Homo sapiens: one gene and its partner. The protein of the gene in region 1 purifies or fractionates together with the protein of each later gene. This does not show direct contact. Each region holds a gene or a part of one and is shown in the gene's direction. Other genes may lie near its edges.

Region 1 (8,019 bases):
CCACAGCGCCTGGCCCCATGTCTTAATCCTCATTCTGTTCCAACAGTGCTTGGCCAATGATTTGCAAATACTAGGTATTCAATATATGTTGAATTGGATTTGTCATGTAGTGCATGACCTTTTTAAAATGGCTCAATTATTATTTTCTCTGTGTTACTTCCAACCGGATTATAAGCTTCTGAAGAATGGGAAGTGTATCTTAGGCCTTGGCCAGTTTCTCAGACTTGGTATTAGTTTTCTCTTCTATAAAATGGTAAAAATTATAGTCCCTCTTGGCTATTATGCCACAGCGTCTAGAAGGATGTCGTGCCCATTGTAGCTGCTTAATATTTGTTCAATGAATCAAATCCAGTACACCCAAGTGAGCAAATCTCTGGAAGGGTTACAAAAAATGACCTGTCCCATAGCTTTCTCCTAAATGCCTCCGTGACCCAAACAGAAGCTCACCTCCTGGGTGTTGCTGTATTAATGAACTGACTACCTGTTTTGCTTTGTTTTGTTTTGTTCATAGTGGAAAACCTCAACCACTGTGAGTTTGCCCTGCTTCGAGACTTTGTCATCAGGTAAGATGTCTCCCCTCCAGCTGTCCAGACAGCAGGTTGAATTATTTGGGGTCAGGGTCTATCTGTTCAGATTCACCTCCTGCATCTCCAGGTCTCTCTGACAGAGCTTTCTGCCCCAGTTCCAGCTCCTGTTGCAAAATGGAAGGTGCTGTAGAAGAATCCTTAGCTCCTGGGAGTGGTTCCCATTCACTGGGTCCAGTCCCTCGAAGTGATGTGTGTCACCGCCTCCTCTTCCTGCCCCTAATTGCAGCCCTCTTCTTCTCACCCTGTGTCCTCTAGGACCCACCTCCAGGACCTCAAGGAAGTGACACACAACATCCACTATGAGACTTACAGGGCCAAGCGGCTCAATGACAATGGAGGCCTCCCTCCGGTGAGCGTGGACACAGAGGAAAGCCACGACAGTAACCCATGACGACCACTTCTCTGTGTCATCACACATACCCACTTCACACACACACATCCCAAATACCACCACCAACCACCTTCTTCCTCTCAACTCTGTCCCACAGGCCTGTCTGGTATTTGTGGAGCATCTTGTCTGTGTGTGTGTGTGTGTGTGTGTGTGTGTGTGTGTGTGTGACAGAGAGAGAGCGAGAGAGCCTGTGTGTGTGCATGCAGGGGTGAGGTATTTTCACTGCCCTCCCTGGAGAGTCCCTTGTAAGTTTGGCTCCTCCATGCCTGTCCATTATCTGTCTCCTTTCCTTGTGTCCCAAAACAAAGCTGTTTGCCTCACTCAGGAGATCTGGGGGAGGTTTCATTTAAAAGTGCTGGGAGCAGGTGAGCCACAGGCAACTCTTCTCTCGGAACCTGCACACAAACTGGGGCTATAGAGATTCTCCAAGGACAGATGGCAGTGGAGCTAGACCTGAGTAGGGGGCAGGGAGTTCAGGACAACCCTCCTGTAAGTTGGGGGTGGTCTGGGGGTAAGGCTGGGGCTTCCTGGGAAAAGGAAGGCCATGAGAAGGCAGAGAAGTAGGCCAGAGCTGGGTTCTTGCAGAAAGCATCAGTGCCTACAAATGGAGCTCCACCCTTCAGTCTGTGTCGTGTTCAGTGTCACAAAGCTACCACCTGTCACCAGAGCCTACTGCTGCTCTCCACTCAACTGGCCTCTGCTGCCAGGCCACTGCCTGTCTCTGCTTCCGACTTTGTCTTCTTTCTCCCTTTCCCTCCTTCCCTCATACATTGCTTTCTCTCCCTCTCCTGCGTGTCTCTGACATCTCTCACTTCCTTTTAGATGAATCTACTTTAGGTTCATTCCTATATTTAGCATTTATGCCCAGTCTACTTCCAGAAATGACTTTAGACTGCCTTTCACATAAAATCACAAAACTACAGGACAGTACAAACAGATTGCCAGAGAAATCTGGGTCAAAGAAAGGAATAGGAAAGAAAGTTTCTGTAGTCAAGCACCTGAACAGGCCCTGAGCTCACAGGCAGCCAATGTAAAGAGGGAAACACAGTGAGTTATGCAGTTCCCAGTGTCCAGTTAAAGGAAGCACACATGCTAGTCATGTGAGACAACCTTTTATTGGGACATCAGGTTCTAGAACTAATTCTAAAGAAGTATCAGAAACAATATACATAATTTGTCTTTCTTAGTAATTTGGCTTCAAAGACAAATTTTTGACCACACCTCCGTTTTCTCCGTCAGACTTCTCTCCCTTCTAAGCAGGCTTCTCTGTTGCTCCATTTGCTTCATACATACTTGACCTCTCTTTTCTATTCCCCATCACTTTTGTGCTGAAGCTAATCATATTTATGTCTGTCTTTCTCTACTTTTCCCTAATTCCCTCTCCTCCTGACTCCTGTAGACATTCCCAATGATACCCACCGTCATACATTTAGGCTTTTCTTGCCTTTCCCTGAAGCCCTGTATTTATTAATGCATATATTTCCCCTGCTTGTTGTACAAGTAAGTTACTCTTTTCCTTTAATCTGTAAGATTCATGAAATTCGGGGCCAGGGAAACAGTTTAGCCTTAGGGAAGGGAAAACACTAAGTGAAACTGTTTACAATAACCTCATACAACCTTCTGTCCCATCTCCTGGTTCAGCCTAGGTGTTTCACTGGTCCTCTATGAATCCCAGCACTTATAATCCCAGTCTTTTATCACTCAGGTGCTAGGAAAAAAAACATAGACTCAAGACCCAAGATTCAATGGACCAGGAGAAAGGGGGGCGGTGATCAGGTCACCAGTGACCCCAACCTATGCTCTCGGTCTTTCCTGGAGGCTGCCAACCCAGCCCTCATCCTCCCTTGCTCACAAAGTTACAGGGTAGGCACCTGTCAGGACAGAACAGCAGCAGCGCTACAGCCCAGAGGTTATACATTTCAACAGAACAGGGATCCTTGGCTACTGTAGAAGCAGTCCTGTATGGAGACCTTGGACCAGCAGGGGAAGATCTATGGGCATGGGAGGTGGGCGTTGGAAAGGCTGAGTAGGAATGGTGCCTGGCACCCCTGAACCATGATCTGAGCCTCCCTGGAGAAGGTATTTTATATGTCTGCTGCCAGCTGCTGGTCTCCACACCCTCAACCGTTCTCAACCCCCCTGCAGGGAGAAGGCCTCCTGGGCACTGTCCTTCCACCTGTGCCAGCCACCCCCTGCCCCACTGCTGAATGAAGGCCATTTCAAGCGCTGCTTCTCACTCCATTCCTCTCAGCTGTTATTGCTGCAGGGCCAAGCCCTTTTTAGTGCTGTGCTCGTCCAGCTCACCACCACAGCCCCTCTCAGCCCTCAGTAGGTGGGAGGGGCCAGCTGCCTCTTTAGGCCAGTTGCATCCTCCATTTATCCAAACCACTCCTCTCCTCCCAGTGGAGTGGGGTTCTGCCAGTACAGCCCTACTGCATCATCTGCGTCAGCCGGTCCTAGCCCATCTGCAGGGTGAAAGAACTCATCAAGAGCTCCTTCTGCCCTTGTAAGCCCATCCCAGCTACTTGTAACCATCTCTAAGGGCAATGGCATTGCTCCCTACCCATTCATCTGCATGAGCTACTCTTGGCTTCCTTAAAGGGTCAAGAAAGCAATTTTTCTGCTTACTAGATTCATTGAGATCAGCTGTGTGAGCCCCAAAGTGGGACAAGGGTGTCTCCTTCATTACTTAAAGATATTCATGAGGGTGGGTCACTACAGATGTTGGGGAGCAAGGGCTAGGATCACTTTTTAAAAAATCACCACTTGTGGCTGTCCCAGAGTGCGGTTGTACATCCTCCCCACCTCATAACGCAGCCACTGAGGAAGAGTGGTTTTCCTAAGAAGACATTGCTGGAGTTGACTTTCTTCTGTCCAAACAAACAAACAAAAACTAAACACACACACAAACCCCCAGAAACCCACAATATGTACACGCTAAGGAAAAACTAGCACCCTTCTGTCCACTCAGCAATAAGAGGGATCTCTTCCCACCTACCCTACCTACTCCTACCCCCAACCCCCTTCCCCATTAATGTGAGTAATGAATTAGCCTGACCACAGGTGGTCACTGTAGGCTAATGGAAAATACCCAAGGGAGGGCAAAGCCCCCCATCAGATGCATGAATGTTTGCGAATGTTGACTGCCACTGCCCCACACACTGTGTCTTTATAGAATTCCCCTTTGCCCACCCTCTTCCTGTCTCCACCTGGACACAACTTGCTCAAAGGCTGGTGACTTGTGGGCCATTCATCTACAACCAAGTCCTGATGGAGCAAGAGGCCCACGCCTAGGGGATGCAAGAACAACCCGTTTCTTAAATGTTACCAGTCCCAGCCAATCTTACGGTGACATTACAGTTAAATTTCCCAATTGAAAACAAGCAAACAGACACTCAAACTGGTCCTGTAATTGTTGCTAGACTTTATGTGTTGTACAACTAAACATTGCTGTTTGAACAGTAACTGCCTGGCCTGTCTTATTTGTGCTCCTTGACCAAATCAGCCATTATGTCATCTCACCCATGTGTGGAGGGTGAGACTCTCTTGGTAAGAAATAGCCACAGATATTAGAGATGAAAACACTTTGTGAGGTCAGTTCATCTTCAGTTGGCGTCAGGTCGGGCCTCAGTCATTATTTTCTAGTGTTTCATAACCAAAGTGAGTAATGGATGGGAGGTTGAGGTGGGAAGATGGCTTGAGCATGGGAGGTTGGAGGTGCAGTGAGCTGAGATCATTCCTGACAGGACCAACCCAAGTCCATACCTAAAGGCAGGGGGCTAAGGGGGCAGGTGAGGTCGGGAGGCCACTCACCTATCACTCACCCCTTCGCGCTCGAGCCAATTCTCAGGGCCCGCCTCTTTCTCCCCTTTCTCGGCGGGGGCCTCTACCCTGACTCCGCCCCGCTCCCCGGGCACTGCCCCACCACGTGACCCGGTCTCGCTCCTCCTCCTCCTCCTCCTTACGTCATAATCTCCGCCCTCCCCTTCAGAACCGCGCCCCACAGCTCGGCGCAGGTCCCGCCCCTTTCCATCTACGGGGCGGCAGGAGGCCCGAAGCAAGATGGCGGTGAATCAGAGCCACACCGAGAACCGCCGCGGAGCCCTCATCCCTAACGGTGAAAGGTGCCTGAGGGGAAGCACGGCGTGCTGTCGGAGGAGAGGAGACGAATGAGATAGACATGGCGGCTCGCAAACTCTCAGCGAGTCAGGGACTTTGCCGCCTTTTTTGGGCGCGGCGCTCTTAGCTCCGCCCCCGACCTTTGGGAGCGCGCGCCCCTCACTGGTGTTCCGGCATGTGGAGGTGGCGGAGGCCGGAACGCGTGGCCTCGCGCGTTTGAGGGGTGGGGGTGGGAATGCGCCTTTTCAAGGCGCGGGGCCCAGACGCATGTCTCCTCAGGGCGGGGCGGGGAGGGGGTGCGAGACGCGTGTGTCCTTCGAAGAGAGGCCGGAGCTGACCGGCGGTTGTGAGCAGCCGGGGGCCTTCGGTGGCAGCGTGGCTGCCCTTGGGTGCCTGCGACTTTGTTGGATGAGGACAGGTACTGGGTGTGTATCTCCTCCTACTTCCACGAACAAGGTGTCGCTCTTTGGTAAGAGGGATGAGGAGGTCGAGTGTGGATCATTCTGGAAAGATCTCAAACTGTTGTGGGGCTTCTCCTTGGACCTGGAAACTTTCTAAAGCCATGTTTCCTCCTTGCTCCAACCAGGGAGATGTCTGCTTTTAAAAACAAAATTGAAAAAATTGAGGCCAGGTGCAGTGGCTCATGCCTCTTATCCCAACAGTTTGGGAAGCTGAGGTGGCCCAGGAGTTTGAGACAAGACTGGGCAACATAGTGAGACCCCATCTCTACAAAAAGTAGAAAATTAGTGGGCCATGGTGGTGTGCACCCATAATCCCAGCTGCTTGGGAGGCGATGGTAAGAGGATTGCTTGAACCCAGGAGTTTGGGCTGCAGTGAGCTCAGATTGTACCACTGCACTCCAGCCTGGGTAACAGAGCCAGATCCTGTCTTAAAATAAAAGATGGGACTGAACAGATGCCTGGGCACAACAAAGCACTGTTGGTCGCAGGAAGCTGTGGGGCTTACACCAGTTGCTTTGCTCCTTGCGGTGCCTGCTGCTGGCCCCTGAGCTCTCTACTGGAGCAGACTCAGCCAGAGGGGTGCCCATCTCCACCTTCAAGCACACTTGTTCACTAAGGCCTGACTCCACTGCGCTCACCTCTTTACCCCACACGCCCCCTTTCCCGTTTCCTACACTCAAACTCAGTCTCCCCCGCTGTGCAGTTCTAAATTGCGCTCCTTTCTGGGCTCTGACTTGCCCTCAATTTCCTTTTCTCCCAACCAGCATTGAAACTCAAGCTGGATGATGTGCTTGGGGCCAGCACACTCAGGTCAGTTTGAATGTAGTTGTCAGGAAGATCGAAGTAGACGTTACCAAATGCTGATATCCAGGTCTTTCTTCTATCTTTCCTTCCTCCAGAAAGTTTTCTTGACAGATTTATATGGGCCTTAGAGGTTGTATGTTCTCACCTGCTTCCTACGTACCTCTGCTGCTTTGTTCCATTTTGTGGTAGATGATTGCTCACCACTCTGACAGTGGTGTCCCCGTGAGCACTTACTGAGAGCCATTTGAGCACTTGTCATTCCATGGTGTGAAGCCTTTCTTTTCTTTTCTTTTTTCTTTTCTTAAGATATTTTTATTTCTCCAAATTTGTTATTTATTAGGAGTGACTGAAATAAAAAACATAATTGAGTCCCATCATCATCATCATCATAGAAATGGCTTTAAGAGAAAACTGGTCAGATGACTATTATTGCTTCCCATTTCCAACCAGTGAATAGTTGCCACTGATAAATTGACAGCGAGGAGTCTGTCAAGAATGCTCAAGATAGCCGGGCGCGGTGGCCCACGCCTGTAATCCCAGCACTTTGGGAGGCCCAGGTGGGTGGATCACAAGATCGGGAGTTCAGGAGCAGCCTGGCCAATATGTTGAAACCCCATCTCTACTAAAAATACAAAAAAAAAAAAAACAGCCGGGAGTGGTGGCGGATGTCTGTAGTCCCAGCTACTCAGGAGGTTGAGGCAGGAGAATTGCTTGAACCCAAAAGGTGAATCACCCAAAAGGTGAACCAAAAGGTTGAGGCAGGAGAATTGCTCCACCAAAAGGTGGAGGTTGCAGTGAGCCGAGATTGTGCCACTGCACTCCACCCTGGGCAATAGAGGGAGACTCCGTCTCAAAAAAAAAGAATGCTCAAGATATGTCATATAATACAACATGCCTGTTCAAAGGGGGAAAAATCTTAGGAAATAACTTACATGTACTTCTTGGTTTCATCATACAAGACAAGCACAAAAGCACCACCCATGCCTCTGAGAACACTGGACCATGCACCCTTGAAAACAGCTTTGCTTCCTTCATCATGAGTAATCTTCCTCCAGCAGTCAAATGTGCCTGTGTACATGATGTCAGTTCCTTTGCATCCTGACTGCATCATCATGTAGCAGCAAATGGTGTTAAATGAATAGGAAGTCAACCCAGCAACGGCAGTGACAGTCTGTGCATCATCCAACTGATGACAATGTGAGTGTTCTTGGGATCCGGAAGCATTCCCTTTGCAGTGTCATAGTTACCGAAGTAGGCAGCAGGCAGCTCGGTAGATAATACCCTGCACAGACACGTTAAAGCCTTGGTACAGGCTCTTAATCCCGTCAGATTTGTAGATCTTAACTAGGCAGTCACCGAAACCTCGCAATTCCCTTTCAGCTCCAGCTTTGCCCACATCAGCTGCTACACGAGTATGGGCAAAATCAAGAGGGTACACAAAACACAAGGATGTGGCCCCAGTGGCACCGCCTGATGCCAGATTCCCTGCAAAGTAGCGCCAAAACTGGGATCTCTTGTCCACACCATCCAGGAAGATCTGCTTGTATTTATCTTTGAAGGTGAAGTTAAGAGCCTGGGTGGGGGAAGTATCTGATGACACTGGCCAGGTTACCGCACCAGGACAGGACTCCGTGCTCCTTGGGAATACAGACCATGC
Region 2 (7,499 bases), on another chromosome or scaffold:
AGATCACCTGAGCCTGGGGAGGTGAGCCGTGATGGTGCCACTGCACTCCAGCCTGGGTGACAGACTCTGTCTCAAAAGAAAAAAAAAAAGAATTATGTTCTGCTCAACTCAGAAACTCTTATAAATAAATTTAATTTGTCCCAAATGTTATCACTTATTTAATATTTGAGGGGGAAATGTGCTAGAATACATAGACTAAGTAGCTATAATAACAACAGCAGCAACGGTTGGTAAAATAAGTTTATTTCTCACAGTCTGGAGAGGACTGGTTCAAGGATCACAGGCTATGAAGTATTCAGGAGCTCAGTCCTCCATCTCATTGCTCTGTTATCTTACGGTGTTGTCTTTGCATGATCAAAGCTGGGTAACTAGTTTCGTTTTTTGTTTTTTTTTTTTGAGACGGAATCTCCCTCTGTTGCCCACCCAGGCTGAAGTGCAATGGCCGGATCTTGGCTCGCTGCAACCTCCGCCTCTCGGTTTCCAGCGATTCTTCTGCCTCAGCCTCCCGAGTAGCCGGGATTACAGGCGTGTGCCACCACAACCAGCTAATTTTTGAATTTTTAGTAGAGCCAGGATTTCACCATGTTGGTCAGGCTGGTCTCAAACTCCAGACCTCGTGATCCGCCTGCCTCGGCCTCCCAAAGTGCTGGGATTACAGGCGTGAGCCACTGTGCCCGGCAAAGCTGGCTAACTAGTTTCAACCATTTTTTTTTTTTTTTTTCTGAGATGGAGTCTCACTCTGTTGCCCAGGCTGGAGTGCAGTTGAGCGATCTCGGCTCCCAGGTCCAAGTGATTCTCCTGCCTCAGCCTCCACAGTAGCTGGGATTACAGGTGCCCGCCACCAAGCCTGGCTAATTTTGTATTTTTCATAGAGATGGGGTTTCACTACTTTAGCCAGGCTGGTCTTGAACTCCTGACCTCAGCTGATCCGCCCGCCTGGGCCTCCCAAAGTGCTGGGATTACAGACGTAAGCTACCGCACTCGGCCTTCAACCATGTTTTCAGAGCAGCTCATGGGAAGTAGGACAGAGAGTAGAAGGCAAGAAGCTTCATCTTTAAGGAGATGAGCTGGAAGTTAAATAATTCTGCTTACATCCCATTGACCTAAACACAATCACAGGGTCACATTTAGTTCTAAGGTAGCTGGGAGATATAGCCCAAAGTTGGGTGCCCATGGGCCCAGCAAAAACTCAGGGGAAATCAAATGGGAAGTGGAGAACGACAATTAGCAGCCTCTGGCAGATAAGATCCAGAAGAAACAGGTCTTTCTTCATAAAATACATTTTTTGAGTAGGATTCCATTACTTGAATTTTTGTAGAAAATGAAACAATGCTATGTGGCAATAAAGACATTCTTAGGTTACTCTATTTTTGTAAGAGATTTCATAGATTCAAAAGAAATCCTATTACTTACTATTTTGACTCTTTGGTAAAATAACTTACCTTTTCATCTTTAGAATTCAGAGAACTGGTACAACCACGGATACTAAACTAGTGATTATTTTCACGAATTGTCAAAATGCATTCATTCTCTATCTAGTAAAGACAAATAATGAAGAATTATATCTGTATTATTTATCTATTGCCATGTAACAAATTACGACTAAATTTAGGAGCTTAAAATAAACACTATCTCACCCAGTTTCTGAGGTCAAGAATTTCAGAGCTTATCTGGGTAGTTCTGGCCAGGGTTTCTCCTGAGGTTGTAGTCAAGATTTTGGCCAACGCTGGAGTTGTCTGAAAACCTGACTGGGCTGGAGGATTCGCTTCAAAGCTGACTCACATGACTGCTGGAGGAAAGCAGGCTCCAGTTTCTTACAAGGGGAACCTCTCTGTAAATCTGACACATAGCAGCCAGGTTCCACCAGCATGAGTGACCCATGAGACAGGGAGTATGAGAGGCCAATCAAAATGCCAAAAATGTCTCTTATAACCTAATCTCAGAAGTGACATACCACTACTTTTGCTCTATTCTATTGGTCACTCAGACCAATCCTGTTACAAGGTGGAGGTGATTATATGAGTGTGAATACCAGGAAGTGGGAATCACTTGGTGGGGGTCGGGAGTGGGGCATTTTAGAGGCTGCCTACTACAATACCTAACCTTAGGTATTGTTGGAAAAAACAAAACTCCATAAAATCTATCAATCTATGAAGTTTAAAAACAATTTAAAAAATTCTATCTAGTACAATTATTAGCCCTAAAGTTTGTCAGAGTAAACAAACTTAAGGCATTGACTTTGCACAAGAAGAAAAAAGTTGGTTGACTCCTTTGCATAAGTTTAATTTTATAATTTCATTAGGTCTCAAAAGCATTGAATCTTTCAGGTATTATTTGATTAAAATGATGTCTGTTTAGAGTTCTTCACACAGTCAGAAATGGCTTCCTTAGAATAAACATTCATCAACTCTGGTTTGGTTTCTTGAAAAGGTTCAGAAGTTAATGTCAACAAGCAAAGATCCTTTGAAAGTTAAGTGAGTTTCTCTAAGTTTTGGTGCAGTTTAAAGACATAGGATCCTCTAATATTGCCTTAACGCTGAGCTATATTTGGGAAGTTGGCATACAGAGGGTCTGTCTTGGATTAAGTCTCAAAATACCTAAAGGATTTCCTTAAACAGGCCCAGGGTCAGATATAACAGGTGCATCACTTCTAATTTTGGAACCAGAAGCAGCCAGCTTAGAGTGAGGTTGTTCTACATTCATTCAGCAGGAGTTTAGATATTACTTTGAGTTTCTCTTTGAGTTTAAAAGGCAAGCTTTTAAACTCAAAAACAAGGGCGATCCATGTTTTAAGTAGTGGCAATACTCAGGAATTTTTTTTTTTTTGAGAAGAATGAGAAGTATATGCAATGTAAGTGTATTTTAAAAAGAAAAGCAACAGGTTTGACTTGAAGCTATATTTTTCTTTTCCGTTTTTTTTTTTTTTTTTTTGAGACGGAGTTTCGCTCTTGTTGCCCAGGCTGGAATGCAATGTTGGGATCTCGGCTCACCGCAACCTCTGCCTCCTGGGTTCAAGCTATTCTCCTGCCTCAGCCTCCCGAGTAGCTGGGAGTAGCCTCCCGAGTAGCATGTGCCACCACGCCCGACTAATTTTGTATTTTTAGTAGAGACGGGGTTTCTCCATGTTGGTCAGGCTGGTCTCGAACTCCTGACCTCAGGTGACCGGGCTGCCTCGGCCTCCCAAAGTGCTGGGATTACAGGCGTGAGCCACCACGCCCAGCTGAAACTATACTTTTCTAAACCTGATTTCAAAGTGTTTCTTCGCTACAACAAGTAAATTTGAGGCAGGGACATTTTTTCATTTAGGTAACGATAACGTTTGTATTCTCTAAAAGCAGCATAATTTGAGATACAATATTTAAACATTAAGAAATCAAAGACGCTCCAAGGAAAGTGAATACATGACTGATTGCTTGCACTGAAAATACTGAAAAGTGTCTAACGTAGTTTTTAAAAAATTTTTGTCGTTGGACTCTCACCACCTGGCCTGCCTTGCCCCCCATTCCAAGGTATTTGACTACATGTCTAAACCTATAGTAATGCTCCCTTTTCTTCTCCCTCTCCTCCACCATAGCCTAAAAGACTGAATTAGTTCCTATGATTAACCATGTATTTAAATAAGGACACCAGATGTTGTATCTTAGCAAAATAAAATTTTGGTGCAACAGAAGCATGCTGGATAAATTCTGGGTTCTAAAGCATAATTTAACTTTGTCAATTCCCTGCCATTCAACGTCGGAGGGTGGGAAGTTGAGCTGAAGCCTCGAGCACTGGTGGAAGCCATGGCCAGTCCAGTCAGCATGTTATCAAGCAATTTACAAGATGAATTTTTTAAGGGGGAAAAAAAAACCCTAACGTCTTCCGACAGTGACATGTCTCTGTGATGGGGTGCTCAGCTACAGTGACAGGGTGAACAAAAATGTCTTTGGCAAAGCCTTCATCTTGCCGTAGTACGTGAGCTGTACTACTAATAGCAATCAGCAGTCCACGGTTGATTTATGGACAGAGTGTGTCGTCCCGCACCGTGCCAGTTCCCGGAGCCTCAGCCAATTAGCTCTATTTTCTGCTTAAGCCGTTAAAGCCACCTCCATGGAAACACCAGGAGAGCAGGCCGGGGGGAAGGGAGCAGACAGGTGCGCCCTCTGGAAAGAAATACACAAAGGGCCGACACTGCGCCGCCGTGTCCCTGGCAACTCCACGCCAGCCCGGCGCGCGCGATTCCCGCGGCGCAGCGGCAGGGTTGGCGGGTGGCGCGCGCAGGTCGCCCCACATCGGCCGGCGGAGCCCCTCGGCCTGCTCGCGGACGCGGCGCCAGTGCAGCGCGAAGCCGGCTTGGGGCGGTGGCGGTGGCGGCGGCGCGCCCGCGCTGTAGGGACTTGTAGTCCGCGCGCCTCCCGGGCACCTCCCCCGGGTAGGCCGGCCAGCGCGTCCCCGCCCGCCGCAAGCCGACTTCCTGCGGCTGCCAAGACTACATCTCCCGCCGTCCTCTCCGCTGTCGGGCCGAAAGCGAAAACAAATTCTGGGCTGCGAGGTGCTGTTCTCTCCCGGGCGCCCCCACCCGCTCCCTGCCCCTCCGGCGCCCTCCAGCGAGGTGGGGAAACGAAAGGCCGCGTCTTTCTTTTTGGTTTCCTCGGCTCCCGGCGTGGGGAGTGCGCGGGGGCGCAGGCCCCGCTTCACCTGAGCCGGCCCAGCGTGCGCGCCAGGGGCGGGGGTTTTCTCGCTTCACACCGGTACGGAGGAGGAAACTTGTGGGGGCGGCGACCCCCGGCCTGGGTCCTGAGTCAGGCAGCGAGGCCGTCGGGAAGTGACTACTCACTCTCGGGGTTTTCCTTAATCCCGCTCCCCCCGTTTGTCGTGGGCGCGTGTTCGCTCCGAGGAGGCGGCCGCGTGCGGACAGCCATGCATTAGGCAGGGCTTCCCTATGCGCCCGGAGAGCGCGGACCGCTGCCTCGGGCCGCCGCCGCCTGCCGCCGCTCGCGGAGCCCGAGCCCCAGCCCGAGCCGCCGCCTGCCCCAGGCCGGGGCGTCGAGCAGCCGGCGGCCTGGCCATGTGGGGCTAGCCCTCGCCGCGCCTGGCCTGCAGCAGGACCAGCAACATGGAGGCTGCCGTCGGCGTCCCCGACGGCGGGGACCAGGGCGGCGCGGGGCCCCGCGAGGACGCGACGCCCATGGACGCCTATCTGCGGAAACTGGGCTTGTATCGGAAACTGGTCGCCAAGGACGGGTCGTGCCTGTTCCGGGCCGTGGCGGAGCAGGTAATTGCGGGGGGGCGGGGAGGGCTTCGAGGGGAGGCGGGGACGGCCCGGCGGGTCTGGGTGGGGAGGCAGCTGCGGGCTGTCCGGGCCGCCCACGGCCGGGGCTGCGCGTGCCCTGGCTGTCGTCACAGCGCCCCATTGTAACGCCGGAGTGGGACGCTGCTTTGCGTCTGAAAGGTGCAAATTGAAACTCGAAAGCCCGCAAATTAACGGGGTGTCTCTCTCCTGATGAAGAGGTAATGAGTTGAGGACAACTTGTGAGGCCTGCTCGGAGCTTGTACAGTTGATTTATTGCTGGGGACCTGGCGACATGATATTTTTTACTTTTGTTCCGCATTCACCTTCCTTCCCTTCGTTTGAGAAGCACCACGCTCACCCCACTCCAGTAAACCAAGTGTTTACTAGAAGTGGTGGATCAAACTTTACTTGTGGAACATATTTTGGTTTGCTGCTGGACTTTGGAATGTAGGGTAGGCAAGCTCGCCCATGTCACTTGAATCAAATGGGCAAACTGCCGTTTGAGAAAACCAGCCTTTTACAAATATAGAATATTTTGAAGGATTTGTCTTGAGTAGGTTCCACCCTTTATTATGCTCTGCTGGGCTGTGTAGGTATACTAAACAGAACTGACTTTTTTAAAAAAGCCTGTTTTGATGTTGGTAGTAGAAAGGGTACGTGTAACTGGAGCTTTTCAAAACCATTTTCTAACACAGTTGCTCAGGAAGATTTTTCTGAATTTTTTTTTTTGAGCGAGCTTATTCCATGTTATATAACACTGTGTGTTGTAGGTGTGCAGTCACCAAAACCCATCCTATATTGAAAAATAGCTGCCGAAGTAGCTGGATAAAAGTTTCTGCTCTGGTGTGTCTTTCAGACGATTCACATGTGCTTTCCTTTGACCTAGGACCTGCTCCCCACACCCCATTGCACACCCCTCCCTACCCGCCTGTGGGGTTTTTATGATGTTTCTGTTTTCTTTTCCCTCACCTTTTTTGAATGCTAAATAACTTTTAAAATTTCTATTTGTGAGTAAATGTTTTACTTAACATGTGGAGGCCAGTCTGTTCTCATTTTTAAACATTGAAAGGCAAGCCATTTATTTACCATAGGTAGCGTAAAATCTTTCTTTAAAACAAGAAATTGATTTAACGGACACAAACCGTTGCTTTATGTTGCGGACATTGTCATTGAAAAATTCTTCCAAAAGCTCCCCAAACCAGGCTCTGTCCGTTTCTCATTTTCAGTGTTGCTGTGGGGTATGTTCACAGCCACCCACTGCCTCCGGTCCTTATTGTTAGTAGGTAAATAGTCTGCCCCATTTGTGAATTTTCTGAATCTCTGTCTGTCCTGCTTCCTTGGACTCCTCAGCACCTCCAGAAGCCTAGGGAAGAGGTGGAAGTGAATTCAGCCCGTATTTATAACGTACTGTTAGACCTAGCAAGAGTTTGGTAAGCAAGGAGGTAGAAATAAATGGCGGTAAGGGAAGCTTGGCGCTTACTTGGATTTGAGTTATCTTGAGTCCTAGTTTATATTGAAGCAGAAGGGTGTGCCTGATTTCCGTAGTGCATACCATAGATACTCGGTGGCCTTGATTATACAGAAGCCTCTTTTATTATAGTGGGATCTCTGTTTTTAAGTAGAAAAGGGGCAAGAGCTAGTTTACACTAAGAACTCTTTGTTACATCAGGTAACACATTTTATTGTATTTTGTAATGGGGTTTAGGTTAGGCATAAGGGACTACCCTTCCCAGTTATGTGACTCAGTTTTAGTCTGATGAGCTTAGCTGAAGACCTTGAACTTTGGGGGAAGTTCAGTTATTCAGTAGGCTACAGTTATAGCCATCATCGCCAAAGGCAAAGTGTGTGTGTGTGGGAAAAAGGAAGTAATACCAGCGTCAGGCTTCCCTTTTAAAATGTGTACCAATAATTTATATTTTTTGCCAACAATTTCTCCTATAAAATCACAAATACTCATCATTTCTAAGAAGGAATCAAAGTAAATAATCTAAGTGGCAGTTTTTAAAGACGGGGAGGAGACTCGAGTTAGGATTTTGGTCTTTCTCTCCAAATTATCTGATTTAGATAGGCCATTTCCTTTTTACACTTACGGATTTGGGCCTGCCGGAGGCCTGACCTGAATCAGCTCCACAGCCATGGAGCTAAAAATAGGGCAGTCTTGGAGGACTTGCTAAAACAGTGTCTCAGCCTTTCCCAGTATTTATCACTATCTTGTCCCAAGTAAAAA

What was found.
Region 2: the proteins of WBP2NL (region 1) and OTUD4 purify together in Homo sapiens (affinity purification with mass spectrometry; 3 studies listed by BioGRID and IntAct, with this or other methods). This does not show direct contact.

The regions. Positions count from the first base shown.
Region 1 is NC_000022.11:41,993,779-42,001,797, forward strand, and holds the start of WBP2NL (postacrosomal sheath WW domain-binding protein), read left to right. Parts: upstream 1-5,009; 5' UTR 5,010-5,040; coding exon 5,041-5,102; exon of another isoform or gene 5,103-5,364; coding exon of another isoform or gene 5,365-5,522; intron 5,523-6,654; exon of another isoform or gene 6,655-6,869; intron 6,870-7,237; exon of another isoform or gene 7,238-8,019. Other genes in the region: SEPTIN3 (neuronal-specific septin-3), read left to right, coding at 512-563, 843-936, 3,124-3,189. UniProt on the Homo sapiens protein: May play a role in meiotic resumption and pronuclear formation, mediated by a WW domain-signaling pathway during fertilization.
Region 2 is NC_000004.12:145,177,570-145,185,068, reverse strand, and holds the start of OTUD4 (OTU domain-containing protein 4), read left to right. Parts: upstream 1-4,479; 5' UTR 4,480-5,095; coding exon 5,096-5,254; intron 5,255-5,388; exon of another isoform or gene 5,389-5,490; intron 5,491-6,910; exon of another isoform or gene 6,911-6,941; intron 6,942-7,499.